Homo sapiens: one gene and its partners. The protein of the gene in region 1 purifies or fractionates together with the protein of each later gene. This does not show direct contact. Each region holds a gene or a part of one and is shown in the gene's direction. Other genes may lie near its edges.

What was found. The genes of interacting proteins can lie anywhere in the genome.
Region 2: the proteins of SLC44A4 (region 1) and SCFD1 purify together in Homo sapiens (affinity purification with mass spectrometry; one large-scale study listed by BioGRID and IntAct). This does not show direct contact.
Region 3: the proteins of SLC44A4 (region 1) and SLC25A12 purify together in Homo sapiens (affinity purification with mass spectrometry; one large-scale study listed by BioGRID and IntAct). This does not show direct contact.
Region 4: the proteins of SLC44A4 (region 1) and GRAMD1A purify together in Homo sapiens (affinity purification with mass spectrometry; one large-scale study listed by BioGRID and IntAct). This does not show direct contact.

Annotation. Positions count from the first base shown.
Region 1 is NC_000006.12:31,871,744-31,877,138, reverse strand, and holds part of SLC44A4 (choline transporter-like protein 4), read left to right. Parts: intron 1-56; coding exon 57-105; intron 106-1,009; coding exon 1,010-1,083; intron 1,084-1,208; coding exon 1,209-1,287; intron 1,288-2,110; coding exon 2,111-2,210; intron 2,211-2,292; coding exon 2,293-2,418; intron 2,419-2,618; coding exon 2,619-2,679; intron 2,680-5,395. UniProt on the Homo sapiens protein: Choline transporter that plays a role in the choline-acetylcholine system and is required to the efferent innervation of hair cells in the olivocochlear bundle for the maintenance of physiological function of outer hair cells and the protection of hair cells from acoustic injury.
Region 2 is NC_000014.9:30,635,819-30,639,318, forward strand, and holds part of SCFD1 (sec1 family domain-containing protein 1), read left to right. Parts: intron 1-2,306; coding exon 2,307-2,429; intron 2,430-3,500. UniProt on the Homo sapiens protein: Plays a role in SNARE-pin assembly and Golgi-to-ER retrograde transport via its interaction with COG4. Involved in vesicular transport between the endoplasmic reticulum and the Golgi.
Region 3 is NC_000002.12:171,887,745-171,891,244, reverse strand, and holds part of SLC25A12 (electrogenic aspartate/glutamate antiporter SLC25A12, mitochondrial), read left to right. Parts: intron 1-3,500. UniProt on the Homo sapiens protein: Mitochondrial electrogenic aspartate/glutamate antiporter that favors efflux of aspartate and entry of glutamate and proton within the mitochondria as part of the malate-aspartate shuttle.
Region 4 is NC_000019.10:35,003,323-35,006,822, forward strand, and holds part of GRAMD1A (protein Aster-A), read left to right. Parts: intron 1-2,009; exon of another isoform or gene 2,010-2,228; intron 2,229-2,362; exon of another isoform or gene 2,363-2,586; coding exon of another isoform or gene 2,587-2,609; intron 2,610-3,500. UniProt on the Homo sapiens protein: Cholesterol transporter that mediates non-vesicular transport of cholesterol from the plasma membrane (PM) to the endoplasmic reticulum (ER).

The DNA of each region.
Region 1 (5,395 bases):
AGGACAAGATATGCAGAGAGAGACTCATCCTCCACACCTCTTCTCATGTCCCTCAGGGAAGCCAGTCAAATACGACCCCTCCTTTCGAGGCCCCATCAAGAACAGGTGAGCTCTGGGCACTGCTCCGGGGGCTGGCGGGGGTGGTGGGTGCAGTGTGGAATCCAGTATTTGCTTTGTATTTGCTAAAATATTAGTAGGAAACTTGTGAAAAAGAGAAACTCCTGCCCCAGATGGGTGGTGCCCTGGGGGGATTGTTGTGTCTGGAGCAGGCATCGAGGGCTTCCCAGTTCTGGGGGGATGTTCTGTTTCTTGACTTAAGTGCCGGCTTCACAAGCGAGAGAACTCACCCAGCTGAGCCCTTGCGAGTTGTGTGCTTTTCTGTCTTTTACTTCAGAAGAAAGTTTACCCACCCAGAAAAAGGTTTTCTTTCTTTTTGTGTTTTGGAGATGGGGGTTCACTGCAGGCTCGAACTCCTGTGCTCAAGTGATCCTCCTGCCCTAGCCTTCCGAGTAGCTGGGACTACAGGCATGCACCATCACACCAGGCTAATTTCTTTGAGATGGGATCTCACTATGTTGCCCAGGCTGGTCTCAAACTCCTGGCCTCAAGGGATTGCCCTGCCTCAGCCTCCCAAGTAGCTAGTATTACAGTCGTGAGCCACTGTGCCTGGCTAGGTTTTCTAAATAAAATATTTAAAAAAAATTAGCCGGGCAGTAGTGGCACGCGCCTGTAATCCCAGCTACTCGGGAGGCTAAGGCAGGAGAATTGCTTGAACCCAGGAGGCAGAGGCTGCAGTGAGCCAAGATTGCACCACTGCACTCCAGTCTGTGTGACAGAGTGAGACCCTGTCTCAAAATAAAAAAGTAAAAGCAATAAAAAAATAAAAATAAAGCCTACTGATGCCCATGCTGCAGCATCACCCAACTCTCTAACCCTTAACCCCTCCAGACCATAAGCCCTACCTCCCCAAGTCTCCTTAGCTCAGCCTCCCGTTTCGTTTCTCTCTCAGAAGCTGCACAGATGTCATCTGCTGCGTCCTCTTCCTGCTCTTCATTCTAGGTTACATCGTGGTGGGGATTGTGGGTGAGTTTCCAGCTGCTCAGAGCCAGGGCAGTGGGTGAGGGACAGGAACCCAGGGAGGGACCATTCCCATAACTGCCCCACTAAGTCCCTGCCCTCCAATGACTCATCTGTGCCTCTGTCTGCAGCCTGGTTGTATGGAGACCCCCGGCAAGTCCTCTACCCCAGGAACTCTACTGGGGCCTACTGTGGCATGGGGGAGAACAAGTGAGTACAAAGGCGAGAAGAGGAGTGCAGGAGCGAGGCGAGGTAGGGTGGGCAGGAGACACCCCCCCAACTCAGGCTCCAGACCTGTCCGTGCTCTTCCACAGCCTTTCCCTGCTGTCCCCACCCCACCTCAGCCTCCCTGAATCTGACAACTCCAGGCCACGTTAAGAACCATTGCTGGACAGTTAGCTTCTTGAGTCCCCCCAGAAATGGGAGGCAGTGGAGAGTCGTGTTAAGTGTATGAGTTTTACAGTTCAGAGATTGGTGTTTGGATCCCCAACTGGACCAAGTTTTGGTTGTGTGGCCTTGGACAAGTTACTCAAGCTCTCTGAGCTTTGATTTCCTTATTTGAAATTCAAGGGGAATTCCAGAAGCAATGCCAACAGTCCTCACATACAGATGTCCAATAAATAATAAAACCTCAAATATTTATATAGCATTTACTATGTTCCAGGCAGGCAGTAAACTTTACACACACAAGCGCATTGAAATCTCATGAGGTAGGCACTACTGTTTTATATGGAGTAGAACTAAGACCGAGAACAGGTGACTTGCTCAAGATCATAAAGATGATATGAAGTTGTGGAGCTCCAAGTTCATGCTCTGAGCTATTTGTCAGCTGCTGCAATGGTGACTTACTCTGAGAGATCTTCTAGGCATCTCCCTACCTCCCCAGCTGAGCTAGGGCCAGGAGCTGGGAGGTGACTGGTATGGGCCACGCTGGGCTGGGCCCACTGTATTCTTGAGAAGCCACCCTAGTGGTCCCTCCCCTCCCCCAACACCTGACCAGGCCCTGATGCACATGGTCCCTCCCCTCCCACAGAGATAAGCCGTATCTCCTGTACTTCAACATCTTCAGCTGCATCCTGTCCAGCAACATCATCTCAGTTGCTGAGAACGGCCTACAGTGCCCCACACCCCAGGTCAGAGCCTGGGACCTGCCTCTACCCCAGATCTCACCCAGGGTCTCAGGTTCCAGCCCCTTAGTGTTCTCTCTGCACCCAGGTGTGTGTGTCCTCCTGCCCGGAGGACCCATGGACTGTGGGAAAAAACGAGTTCTCACAGACTGTTGGGGAAGTCTTCTATACAAAAAACAGGAACTTTTGTCTGCCAGGGGTACCCTGGAATATGGTGAATATTGCCCCTAACCTCATCACTGTCGCCCAGAAGGGCCAGGGTGGGCACGAGAGGGAGGGGGAGTTGGGTAGATCATCACCAGGTTGGCTCTCCTGGGGAGTGTGGGACAGGCTGAGCCCCATGGTGGTGGTGAGGGGACCTGCTTCTTCATCCTGCTCTGTGTCTGTGTGTCTGTCCTTTCACTCCTGCCACAGACGGTGATCACAAGCCTGCAACAGGAACTCTGCCCCAGTTTCCTCCTCCCCTCTGCTCCAGGTGAGAAGCACAGATTCCTTCCTCAGACGTCATCTAGTCCAGTGTTTTCATTGCTTGAATGAAGAAATCAGGCCCAGAGAGAGTGAAGTCACATAGCTTGTTGGTGGCAAAATTGGAATTAGCATCAGGTCTTCATTTTGCTCTTTGTTATGTGGCCTTGCAGTCAGACCATCAGTGTTTTGGGGACCTACTATGTGCCAGGTGCTGGGGACAGAGGCAGGGATAACAACTGCTCCCTGCTTCAGCTACATTCTAGGTGAAGAGATTAGAGTTGTTCACAAAGAGACTGTATGAAAATCTCATGAAAACATACATGGGTGAATCTACACACACATTTTTTTTTTTTTGACGGAGTCTTCCTCTGTTGCCCAGGCTGGAGTGCAGTGGCGTGATCTCGGCTCACTGCAACCCCCGCCTCCCGGGTTCAAGCGCTTCTCTGCTTCAGCCTCCCGAGTAGCTGGAATTACAGCACATGGTGCCCGCCACCACGCCCGGCTAATTTTTATTTTTATTTTATTTATTAAATTTATTTATTAAATTTGTATTTTTAGTAGAGACGGGGTTTCACTATCTTGGCCAAGCTGGTCTTGAACTCCTAACTTCGTGATCCACCCACCTTGGCCTCCCAAAGTGCTGGGATTACAGACATGAGCCACCACGCCCAGCCTGCACACATATCATTTTTATATATGCACAGGGAAAAGGCTAGAAGGATATTTGTTCAAATGTTATAAGTGAACGTGGCTGGGTGGTAGGATCACAGTTGAACTTTTTTTCTTTTACAGTGTGCTCTTCCTTCCAGTAGCAAATGTCTTTTTTTTTTTTTAAGAGATGAAGTCTTGCTATGTTGCCCAGGCTGGTCTTGAACTCCTCGATTCAAGCAATCTTCCCACCTCAGCCTCTCAAAGTGCTGGGATTACAGACATGAGCCCCGACACCCAGTTGCAAATGTCATTTTTAATATAAAACAATTTTTAGGCCAGGCATGGTGGCTCATGCTTGTAATCCTAGCACTTTGGGAGGCTGAGGCAGGCAGATCACCTGAGATCAGGAGTTCGAGACCAGCCTGGCCAACATGGCGAAACCCTATCTCTACTAAAAATACAAAACTTAGCTGGGCGTGGTGGCATGCACCTCTTATCCCAGCTACTCAGGAGGCTGAGGCAGGAGAATTGCTTGAACCCGGGTGGCAGAGGTTGCAGTGAGCTTTGCAGTGAGCCAAGATCGTGCCACTGTACTCTAGCCTTGCTGACAGAGCGAGACTCCGTCTCAAACAAAAATTTTAGGCCGGGAGCAGTGGCTCACACCTGTAATCCCAGCACTTTGGGAGGCCGAGGCGGGCGGATCACAAGGTCAGGAGTTCGAGACTAGTCTGGCCAACATGGTGAAACCCCGTCTCTACTAAAAATACAAAAATTAGCCAGGTGTGGTGGTGGGCACCTGAAATCCCAGCTACTCGGGAGGCTGAAGTAGGAGAATTGCTTGAGCCCAGAGGCGGAGTTTACGGTGAGCCGAGATGGTGCCACTGCACTCCAGCCTGGGCAACAGTGAGACTCCATCTCAAAAAAAAAAAATTAGACAATTTATAGCATAAGATGAGATATCCAGTTATCAATTTAAGTACAGTAAGGAGTATCTCAAGTGAATACTTCAAAGTCAAGTAGATCTGAATATAAATTCTAGCACTTTCCAGCCCTATGGTCTTGACCCAACTATGCAACCTCTCTGAACCTTGTTTCCTCATCTTTAGAATGTAAATGACAGTGAGGTGCAGTGGCTCATGCCTGTAGTCCCAACTGCTCAGGAGGCTAAGGCGGGAGGATCACTTGAGTCCTGGAGTTGGAGGTTACAGTGAGCTATGATTGTGCCACTGCACTCCAGCCTGGGCAATAGAGTGAGAAACCCTGCCTCTAAAAAATAAATAAGCTAGGTGAGGTGACTCACACCTGTAATCCCAACACTTTGGGGGGCTGAGGTGGGAGGATTGCTTGAGCCCAGGAGTTTGAGGCCAGCCTGGGCAACACAGCAAAACCCCATCTGTACAAAAAATTTAAAAATTAGCCAAGTGTGGTGGTGCACATCTATAGTCCCAGTTGCTTGGGAGGCTAAGTGGGGAGGATCGCTTGAGCCCAGAAGTTCAATGTTGCAGTAAGCTATGATCATGCAGCTGCACTCTAGCCTGGGTGACAGAGCAAGACCTTGACTCAAAAATAAGAAAATAAATAAATAAATAGATAAATAAATGACAAAGCAAGGCTGCCTGGCAAAGTTGTTGCAAGGATGGCAGTAAGTGGCTCTGTAGGCACATAACAGTTGCCAAAGGAGGTGGGGATAAGGTCAGAAGGCTTCCTGGAGGAGGTGAGATGGAGCTGGATTTGAACAGGGAGTCATGGATGGGATTTCTGGTGGAAAGAGAGCCCTGAGAGAGAGGCACAGTAAGAGCAAAGGTACAGAGTAGAAGGGAACATGGGCTGGATTTGCACAGGAGAGCCTGGAAGCCTGGCCAGGGAGTGTGGATGCTGTCTCTGGGGCAGAGCCTCTGGAGATGTCTGAGTCACAAAGGGACCCAGAACCCTGGAGTGATGAAGTCCAGGCAGTGCCACGGTCTCCCTGGCACTCCACTCGGGTGGAGGGTGGATGGAAGGGTGACAGGGTGTTCTAAGAGTTGAGGCCAGCGGAGAGGAGGGTCCAAACCAAGGCACGACAGGGAGGGGAG
Region 2 (3,500 bases), on another chromosome or scaffold:
TTTAGTAATAGACTGTTTTGCGAAGTGTGGTTGCACCATTTTATATTCCCACCAGTAGTGTGTGAGGGTTCTGATTTCTCCAGATCCTTGCTGAACACTTACTATCCGATATTTTTATTGTAGCCATCCTAATAGGTTTGAAGTGGCATCTCATTATAGTTTTGATTTGCATTTCTGTAATTAATGATATTAAGCATCTTTTAACATGCTTATTGGCCATTTGTATGTCTTTCTAGAAATATCTATTCAGATCATTCACCCAGTTTTTAATTGGGTTGTCTTTTTATTGTTGAGTTGATAGAATTCTTTTTCTGTTTTGGATACTAGACACTCACAAGTTTATGATTTGTAAATATTTTCTCCCAGTCTATGGGTTATCTTTTCATTCTCTGGATAATGTCCTTTGAAGCACAAACATTTTTGATTTTGATGAAGCCCAGTTTATCGGTTTTTTTTTTTCTTGAGTTGCTTATGCTTTTGGTGTCATATTTAGGAAACCATTCCAGATTCTTGTGTTTTCTTCTAAGAATTTTATAGTTTTGGCTCTTACCTGTAGGTCTTGATTCCCCTTTGCATTATTTTTATATATGGTGGGATGTAGGTGTCCAACTTTATTCTTTTGCATGTGGCTATCCAGTTGTCCCAGCGTAATTTATTAAAGAGACTATTCTTTCCCTAGTGAATGGTCTTGGCAGCCTTGTCAAAAATCAGCTGACCACAGATATCTTGTTTGATTTCTGAACTCTCAGTTCTATTGCATTGATATCTATGTCTTTCCTTATGCCTGTACCACACAGTGTTGATATCTCTTGCTTGATAGCAAGTTTTGAAATTGAGAAATTGTGTCCTCCAACTTTGTACTTTTTTTCAGACTGTTTTGGCTTTTCTTGAATTTCCAAATTACGATTAGCTTGTCATAAGTTTTGTGCTTCTTTTGTTAAATTTATTCTTTCATGTGTTTAATGCTTATTATGAATGGAATTCTTAATTCCATTTTTAGGATTCTTCATTGCAATTGTATAAAAATTCAATTGATTTTTATGTATTTATCTTGTATCCTGCAACCTTGCTGAACTTATATGTCCTTTTGAAATGTATGCATCATTCTTTGACCACTTCCTTACTTTCTGGCACAATAAGATGTTCCAATATAGCCTAGGATTTTACTTTCTCTGTCTCAGCCCAGGATTCAGACATTTTTCTGAGGAGCTCTGGTTGCTTTCTGTAAAGAATGGTATTTAGGAATCAGGATCTAGGCATTAGGTATATTCATTGTGACTAGAGTGTCACTGTTCTTAGGTCCTCTCAATGGAAAAAGTTAGGAAATTATGTATTTATACATACACTTTTATATCTGTATTTATTTCTACAATTCTCCCTCTCTTCCCCTCACCTATCCAGATAAACAGATAACCTCCAAAACTGTTTCAGCTCAGCAACACAGGATTCACTCTAGCGTTTCCCTTTTCTCTTTACAAATTTGTAACTCCTTTCTCAGAGTGAAAAACATGGTTCCCAGTATCGTGAACATATTACTTATTTCTCAATCCTCATACATAAATAATTTCTTGACCTTGATTGAACCACTACCCTGATCACCTTCCTCACAAAGGCTCCAACCCCTCAATGTTTCACATTTTAACATCGCTAAAATCAGGTGCATCTTAAAATTGATCATGCCACAAAATTTTATTGGCATCATTAATTCTTAGTGTTACATAAAATGATGGTTCTTGTTACAGTCAATGACATCTTAGATTTAAGGAAGTATGGTTATTTCGATATCTATTTGCTAAAAGTATAAGAAGATAAGTAAATTTGACTTAAGAATTTGCATAACTTAAATTGCACTACTTTTGAGCAGTTGAAAAGAAATACCTCTAGAATTGGTAATTGGATTTATAACTTGTCTGTGTGCAATGAAGGATTTGTTGTGTCATCACATGTCCAGAACAGTTGAAGATCGTGTCTGCCAAATATAACAAGCATTTTACTATATTAGTGGACCATATCTGGATATTTTAAGAAGAATGCAGATAGGCTGTATGAAAGCAGTTTGTACTGTATTGTAATTAATGAGATTTTGTTGATAATATAATTTTATTACTTTATTAAGAAACATTTTAGTTACATCTGATAACCAGATAACCAGTACTACTTCAAAGGTTTTTTCTCTTGGGATACTTTTTTTGATTGTCATTTAAATATCCTGTCTTTTAAATATAACTTTGCCTTATAGTAGTTGAAACATATGTATTCATGGTCTTCTTTATCCTATAAGAATAAAGTTTTCATTGTATTGATAGGATCTTCGAAATCAACTATATGAATCATATTATTTAAATTTTATTTCTGCTATTTCAAGAAGTAAACTGGAAGATATTGCAAATGCAGCGTTAGCAGCTAGTGCAGTAACACAAGTAGCCAAGGTAAGAGAGTTTGGTGGGTTGATGACATTTTGTCAATGTAAAATTTAACACTGTTCTGAAACCCGTAGTTGGCATAGATATCTATTTGACAGATGACCAGAACAACAGAATTGTTTAGGCTCAATACTTTTATAAAGAGTTCTGATAATATAAATTATATTCAAGTTGAACTAGGCAAAATAAGCCAAACTAAAGGAACCTATTATTTAATGAATTTGAAAGACAGAAATAAAAAGCAGAATGAGTTTTGCTTTAGTCTGTGATTTGTATAATATTTTTAGGTCAACTCAGAAATCATTTGACAGTTGTATTGTCATAAACTGTATTGAAAGTATGTTGACATTGTTTTATCTGTAATCATTATAATCATCATACTATTTCCAGATATTTTTTTTACTTAGGAAAGAGGATCCAAAGTGCCCGTGTTGCATATTGAGATCCAAAGTGCCTCTGTTGCATATTAAGAGAAAAAGAACCCATGACAGGCCTGCAATTCTACATCATAGTGACTTTTTAGTCAGGTTCAGCTTCAGTTATAAATCAATTTGTAAAATATATTTCAGGTTATAATCCTGTAATGCTCTGTGTTTCTTGAATTTGGACAAGATATGCATTAAAGTTCCAGACAACTATCTAGGACAAATAAAAGACTAAACAACCATGCATATACTTTCTATTCTTTTTCTACTGATAGATTTTTCATTGTTAGAGTTAAATAGACCACTAATATTTCTGATTAGTTTTTGAGGCTTATGCCTTTAATCTTTGTGCTCAAAATTTATTAACTTCACATAAAATAATGGGAACAACTTTTGTTTTCCTTCTTGTTTTGTTTTGAGACAGTGTCTCGCTCGCCCAGGCTGGAATGCAGTGGTGCAATCACTGCTTGCTGCAATCTTCAGCTCCTGGGCTCGTACCACCCCACCCAGCTAATTTTTTTAATATGTTGCCCAGGTCTCAAACTTCTGGCCTCAAACAGTCCTCCCACCTCAGCCTCCCAAAGCTCTGGGATTACAGGTGCAAGCCACCTCACTCAGCCTTAATTTGGTTAACTAAATTCAGTGTATTTCA
Region 3 (3,500 bases), on another chromosome or scaffold:
TCACTGCAACTTCTGCCTCCGGGGTTCAAGCAATTCTCTTGCCTCCGAGTAGCTGGGATTACAGGCATGTGCCACCACACCCGGCTAATTTTTTGTATTTTTAGTAGAGACAGGGTTTCACCATGTTAGCCAGGATGGTCTTGATCTCCTGACCTCGTGATCTGTGTGCCTCAGCCTCCCAAAGTGCTGGGATTACAGGCGTGAGCCACCATGCCTGGCCGATTCTTTGACAACTTTTAAATCTTAGCTTTTCATTTACTGTTTTGCATATCGTCATTATCTTTTTACACATTATTTTGATGATGCCTTTATTTTTATGTTGAAAATTTGTGGAATTCATAACTGCTTATTTAGCACTAAGTATGAAACATTGACACAAGCATTATTGATAGATAAGAGAGTGATAGAATGTAAATACTCACCTTCAGAAAGGCCTAACGCAGCAAGAAAGATAACAATATAGGCTGAGTGCAGTAGCTCACACCTGTAATCTCAGCACTTTGGGAGGCTGAGGCTAGAGGATCACTTGAGCCCAGGAGTTCAAGACCAACCTGAGCAATATAGTGAGACCTCGTCTCTGCAAAAAATTTTAAAAATTAGCCACACCTGGTGGCATCCATCTGTGGTCCCAGCTACTCAGGTGGCTGAGGTAGGAGGATTGCTTGATCCTAGGAGGCAGAGGTTGCAGTAAGCCAAGATCATACCACTGCACTCCAGCCTGGCAACAGAGCAAGACCTTGTTACACACACACACACACACACACACAGACACACACGATACAGTATTGCTAGTTGGATCAATTTGAGGATAGTTACCAAGTAAAAGATTTTTATTCCTGGCTTGAATACTTCAAACTATAGTTATTTGAAGCTTTGCAGTACTGTTTAGAAACAGTTTTATGAAACAGTTTTATAGATGCATATAGTTGATTAATATTTTAGCTATAATAGAAGACAAAAATACATGCTAACCGTGTATTTCTTTAGCACTTAACATATTTACCCAACAAATATTTACAAAGGATTATTTGCTGTGTACCATGCACTTTTATTCAATACAATACTGTTCAGTAGCAGACACCAAGTCGAATATCAAGAGAGACAACAGAGCCAAGACCTAAATGCTGATGGACATGTGATTGGACTAGCTGCTCTCTCAGGCCCATGCCATCTCTCATGGTTTGTGGTTGAGGGAATCAAGAATAGTGAAGGCAAATGCATAGCCTGTGGTAGAGCAATCAGATTGGCTTCTTACATCATAGTGGCTGTGTAATAATATTGACAATGGCTAACATTTATTGATCATTTAGAGTGTGCTTGAGATTGGCCTAGTGCTTTAAGGATATTAATGTTAGTTTTCATAACAACTTTATGAAGCAGGTTTAATATCCTTGTTACATAGATGAGGTTAAATTAATGTCAGACTATGTGGTAGAGCCAGATTCAAATCAAATTCCAGAGCCCATACCCTTAACCCTTACATAATACTACTGGTAGGATATTGAAATGGGGTGACTTTTGAAAGACAGAGGTATATCAGGGGATAATGGCAGAGTGTTAAGAAGTTAAAAAAAAATCTGGTTACTTAGGTGATGAAATTTAAAAAGTTTCTTTACACTGTAACTGTCTAGAATAGTTAGCCAAGGAATTTGGATTTGAAACAGTAGGGAGCCACTGTGGGTTTCTGAGTAGGCAAATTGAAGTGGTGAATTCTGGCAGCTTTTTGTGTATGTTGGATAAAGTATGAAGAGATTGGAAGTAGCTTAGGTGATAAGCTGAGAGGCTACTGAAGTAATACTTTTGAGAATTAATGACCTAGAGTGGTTGATGGCTGGGGAAATGAAAAGCAAGGACAATACCAGCGATGTAAGGGAAGAATCTATCGAATTTGGTATTAAATATGGAAGTAAGGGAAGAAGTAGAAGTGAACCTGTCAGTTTTAGGATAGGTGTTAATTGATAAGGCATCTATTTAGATAATATTTTTTGGGGGGATGGGGTTAGTTTGGTTGCTAAACAAATGTATCTCACTAAGTTAAAGTTGGATTTGGACAGATACAAATTTGTGCAGGTGGTAGATGAATTCCTTGTATATAAAGCAAGGCAGAGGATCAGGGGCTGATTTATAAGTGATATCTCCAATTGAAGTAGGAAGGAGGAGGAGGGGAAATAGGGAGAATGGTCCCATGAAAGTTTAAAGTAGGAGTTTCACAAGAAGGATATAATTAAAGGTTAAAATGTAGATTATTCTGTTATTAGTATGATTTAGTTTGGGGAGGATTTTGGGGTCACTTGAGTTTAGAATTATCTGAGCTACTTAAAGACTATAAAGAGATATAATTTTAAATTTTAGAGTACAGTTGAAAACTCTTTGTAAAATGTAGATCTGTGGCATTAACTGTTTAAGTTCACAAATAGTCAATAAAAATTCCTACTTTCAAATAAGAATATTTTGTTAAACTTTTGAGCCATGGGTCAAAAGTCATTTGTAAAACAATAAAATGGCCGGGTGTGGTGGCTCACACCTGTAATCCCAGCAATTTGGGAGGCTGAGGCGGGTGGATCACTTGAGGTCAGGAGTTTGAGACCAGCCTGGGCAACATGGTGAAACCCTGTCTCTATAAAAAATATAAAAAATTAGCCAGATGTGGTAGCGCACGCCTGTAATCTCAGCTACTAGGGAAGCTGAGGCAGGAGAATCGCTTGAACCCGGGAAGCGGGGGTTGCAGTGAGCCGAGATTGTGCCACTGCACTTCAGCCTGGGCGACAGAGCGAGACTCACTGTCTCAAAAAAAATAATAATTAAAAAAATATATATATATTTTTATTTGAAAGTACTGGTATATCAGCTGGGTGCGGCAGCTCATACCTGTAATCCCAGTGCTTTGCGAGGCTGAGGTGGGAGGATCACTTGAGGCCAGGAGTTCAAGACCAGCCTGGGCAACAAAGCGAGATTCCATGGCTACAAATATATGTATATAGATTTAGCTGGGTGCGGTGGTACATGCCTGTGGTCCTAGCTGCTCTGGAAGCTGAGATGGGAGGATCACTTGAGCCCAGAAGTTCGAGGTTACAATGAGTTATCATTATACCACTGCACTCCAGCATGGGTGACAGAACAAGACTTTGTCTCCAAAAAAAAAAAAAAAAAGGAAAAAAGAAAAGAAAGTGGCAACTGACTTATTTATGTATCTATGTTTAGTGAAATTGTATGAGAATTGGTGTGGGAGTTCATAAGAAGGGCTTTATAAGAGTAAAGCATTATTATTTTGAATATAGGGAAATAGGTTCATTTTTCCTGTGGTGTTCATTGCTTCTCAAGTTTTGATGAGCTATGTTTCTATTAGTTAAAAAACATCAACAACAACAGTATGCACTAAGATTCTGCCTTTTTCTGCCCACCTCCACTCTGCCAAGTTCATGAAATTGGAGTACAACAAATGAATTCTTATGTGTTAGGCTGTGCTGTAATTTTACAACTGGTTTAAGCTAAGATTTTAC
Region 4 (3,500 bases), on another chromosome or scaffold:
CTCTGGGTCCACTGGGGCCTAGGAAGTTGGAGGTCAGGTGTCTGCGGAAGCAAAACAACATCCCTTCCGAGTCTCCTCGCCCCTATAACAGTCCCCCAGGCTCCTCCCTTCACTCTGCCTTCAGCTATCCTGGTTGGGCAGCCGCAGGGTCCGCCCTTGAGTACTTCCTCTTTGCCCAGCCCTGGAGCAAAAACTGGGGGCGTGGTCCCTGCCCTGTCTGTGTGCCTTGAGCCTCTCTTCAGGATTCCGGCCCCCAGGCCCTGCCCCTAGATCTGTGGCTGCGGGAAAGTAGGGCAGGTCTGTGTTTCAGGCTAGAGGGCTGAGAAAAGCAGGCAGGGGAGGATGTGGTCCTGCTGCTTAGGAGTCTCTCCCTGCTCACCAGTGCTGTCTGGGTGAAGCCAAACTCCTGACTAGGGTCACCAGGCCTGTGCACCTCCGCTACTCCCTCAGCCCCACTGGCCACCTCACTCACACTCAGACCTGCCAGGCTCAGTCCTGTCCCTGAGCTTGATGTTCTCCACCTGGAGTCTTCTCCCAGCCTTTGCCACATGTGTTCTTTGTCCTCAGGTGAACAAGTGGGCTTTGTTCAGGAAGGCTTTTGCTGACTGTTACTAAAGAAATTGGTTGGGCACAGTGGCTCATGCCTGTAATCCCAGCACTTTGGGAGGCCAAGGTGGGAGGATCACTTGAGGTCAGGAGTTTGAGACCAGCCTGGGCAACATAGCAAGACCCCATCACTACAAAAAAACTTTAAAAATCAGCTAGGCATGGTGGTGTGAGACTGTAGTCCCAGCTATCAGGGAAGCTAAGGCTGGAGGATCGCTTGAGCCCAAGAGTTCGGGCCTGGAGTGACCTGGGAGGCTGAGGATTGAGAATTCCTTGAGCCCAGGAGTTCGGAGCTGCCGTTAACCATGATTTTGCCACTGTACTGCAGCCTGGGTGACAGAGTGTGACCGTGTCTCTAAAAAAAATTTAAAAAGCATCTCTGCCCCCCTAGTTGTCCCATCCCTTATCTCTGTGGTCCTCAAACTTGAATGTGCGTCGGAATCTCTGGCCCCACCCCAGTTCTGATTCAGAAGGTTGGGAGTGGGTCCTGGACTCTGCCTTTTGAACACTTTCCAAGTCCTGCCTGCTGCTCTCTGGGGCTCATACTGAGCAGCATTGCTTTATGGCGTTCACCAGTGTCTGAGGTCGCCATCCCTGCTCACTTGTTTTCTTACTGACGGTCTATGTTTCCCTGTTTCAGCGTCAGGTCCTTGCAGGCAGGGGCTTGTATGGGCTTTGCTCACTTCCTTGTGGCGGGTGCAGGGTATTTAGAGGTGAAAGGCTGGAGTTGAGGGTCAGTCATGGAGGCGCCTAACATCAGGCGTAGTGCTTGTGAGGTCCCTGTCAGGGTCAGCAGAGCGTCATGGGCAGTGGTGCACTGGGCTGGCAGCCGCGCTGTACACTCCATCTTAGTCCGCCAGTCCCTGTGGGAGGGAAAGCAGCGTAGTTAAACCAGGTGCCCTCCAGGTACTGGGCTTTGTGGATCTCACCTCACCTCCATCTCTGTGCAACCCTAGGAGGTGGGCACTAATTCCCATCATACCCAAGAGGAAACTGAGGCACAGGAGGGTTCAGACACTAGCTCAGGGTCACACAGAAAGGACGCGGTGGCACTTGACTGGAAGGTCCTTGGACTGTGGGGCCCACACTCCAGGCTGCTGCCCTGGAGACCTGCAGGGTCCAAGGAGTCGTGCACCTGCTGGAACCCAAGTTCTATGGGGGGCGGGGAAGGAGGGCCGATCACCCAGGCCATCCCCAACAGTATGTGCTCACGGAGCACCTCCTGTACGCCAGGCCCTGCTCTAGGTGATGGGGACACTCAACATCGTGGGTGGGGGTTGGGGGTGGGGAGAGAAGGATAAGAACTAGGGGGAAATACTGAAGGTCCCGGGAGGCAGCAGGGAGACTTGCTTTGCAGAAAGAGAGCAGGGAGGGGGATCGGGAGGCGGGGTAGGGGGTGTTAAATAGGGAGGTAGGGAAGGTGTCCACTGAGCAGAGACCTGAGGGAGGTGGGGGAGCCCTGTGGATGTGGATGTGGATGTCTGGGAGGAAGGGCATTTTGAGCAGAGGCACCGACCAAGGCGGGAGCTGGGAGAGGGAGTGCAGGGCTGATGAGGGCAGAGAGGGACCACCCAGGAGGACCCTGATGGACTCAGATGATCCCAGGCTCCCTCCCACTACAGGTATGGGCAGGGATGGGAACAGGGAGACCAGGGAGGAGGCTGCTGGGATGGCCCAGGGGAAAAGCAGTGGCCTGGGCCACTGGCTGTTTAATTATTTTATTCACGTATTTTATTCCACAAATTTATTTTACAAGTGTTACATGAGTGCCTACCCTGCATCCTGTCCCGCATTGTGCTGGGGACAGAGCAGTGACCCACAGACCCGTGAAGGACTTGGACCTGTCATCAGACAGTGACGGCCCAGAGTAGTCCAGGATGGGAGCTGCCCAGGGGACTGTGGGGTCACGCATGAGCCAAAGTCCTGAAGGACAAATAAGGATTTGCTAGGCAAAGAAGAACTACGATCTGGACAGACAGAATGGCATATGTTAAGGCTTGGAGGTAAGAGAGACAACTTTGAGTTGCCCCAGGTGGTGGAGGGAATCCCACCTGCACCCCAGAATACATCAAGGCCCCTAAATGGGAATCCTGCCTTGAAATAAACCAAGCCCATGGCCAGGTGCAGTGGCTCACAGCTGTAATCTCCTAGCACTTTGGGATGCTGAGGCAGGTGGATTGCCTGAGCTCAGGAGTTCGAGACCAGCAACGTGGTGGAACCCTGTCTCTACTAAAATACAAAAAATTAGCTGGGCATGGTGGTGGGTGCCTGTAATCCCAGCTACTGCGGAGGCTGAGGCAGGAGAATCACTTGAACCTGGGAGGCGCAGGTTGCACTGAGCTGAGATAGTGCCACTGCACTCCAGCCTGGGTGACAGCGCGACTCTTTGTCTCCAAAAAATAAAGAAAAAAGAAAGAAACCAGGCCCGTATCCTATGGCAAGTGGTTTGCCGCTTTGAGCTAGTTTCCTCCTCTGTAAAGCAGGGATGGTGAATCATATCAAAGGCACCGGCTTGAGAAATAATACGGTTAATCATACGGAGAGCTTGACATATTTCCTGATAAGGAGTCAACAAAGAATGTCCTTTTAAAGTTCCCAACGCCATCCCCACAGTCCTTATTACAGTTCGTGTTTGCACAGTGAAGTTGGGAGTGTCCTGTTTGTTCAGTGTCTGCCTCCCCACCAGAAGGCTCATTCCCCAAGGGCAGGGGCCATGTCCTGCGGGCTCTACTGATGCCAGCTCCAGCCAGCGTGCAGATTATTCATTTAGCCTCTGGTGGTTATTGAGCATTCACTATGTGCCTAGAGTTTTGGGCTCTAGGGACCCGGTGGTAACCAAGACCTGAAGGTCACAGTCTGGGTAGACAGTAAACAAACAGTAAACAAGCAGGACA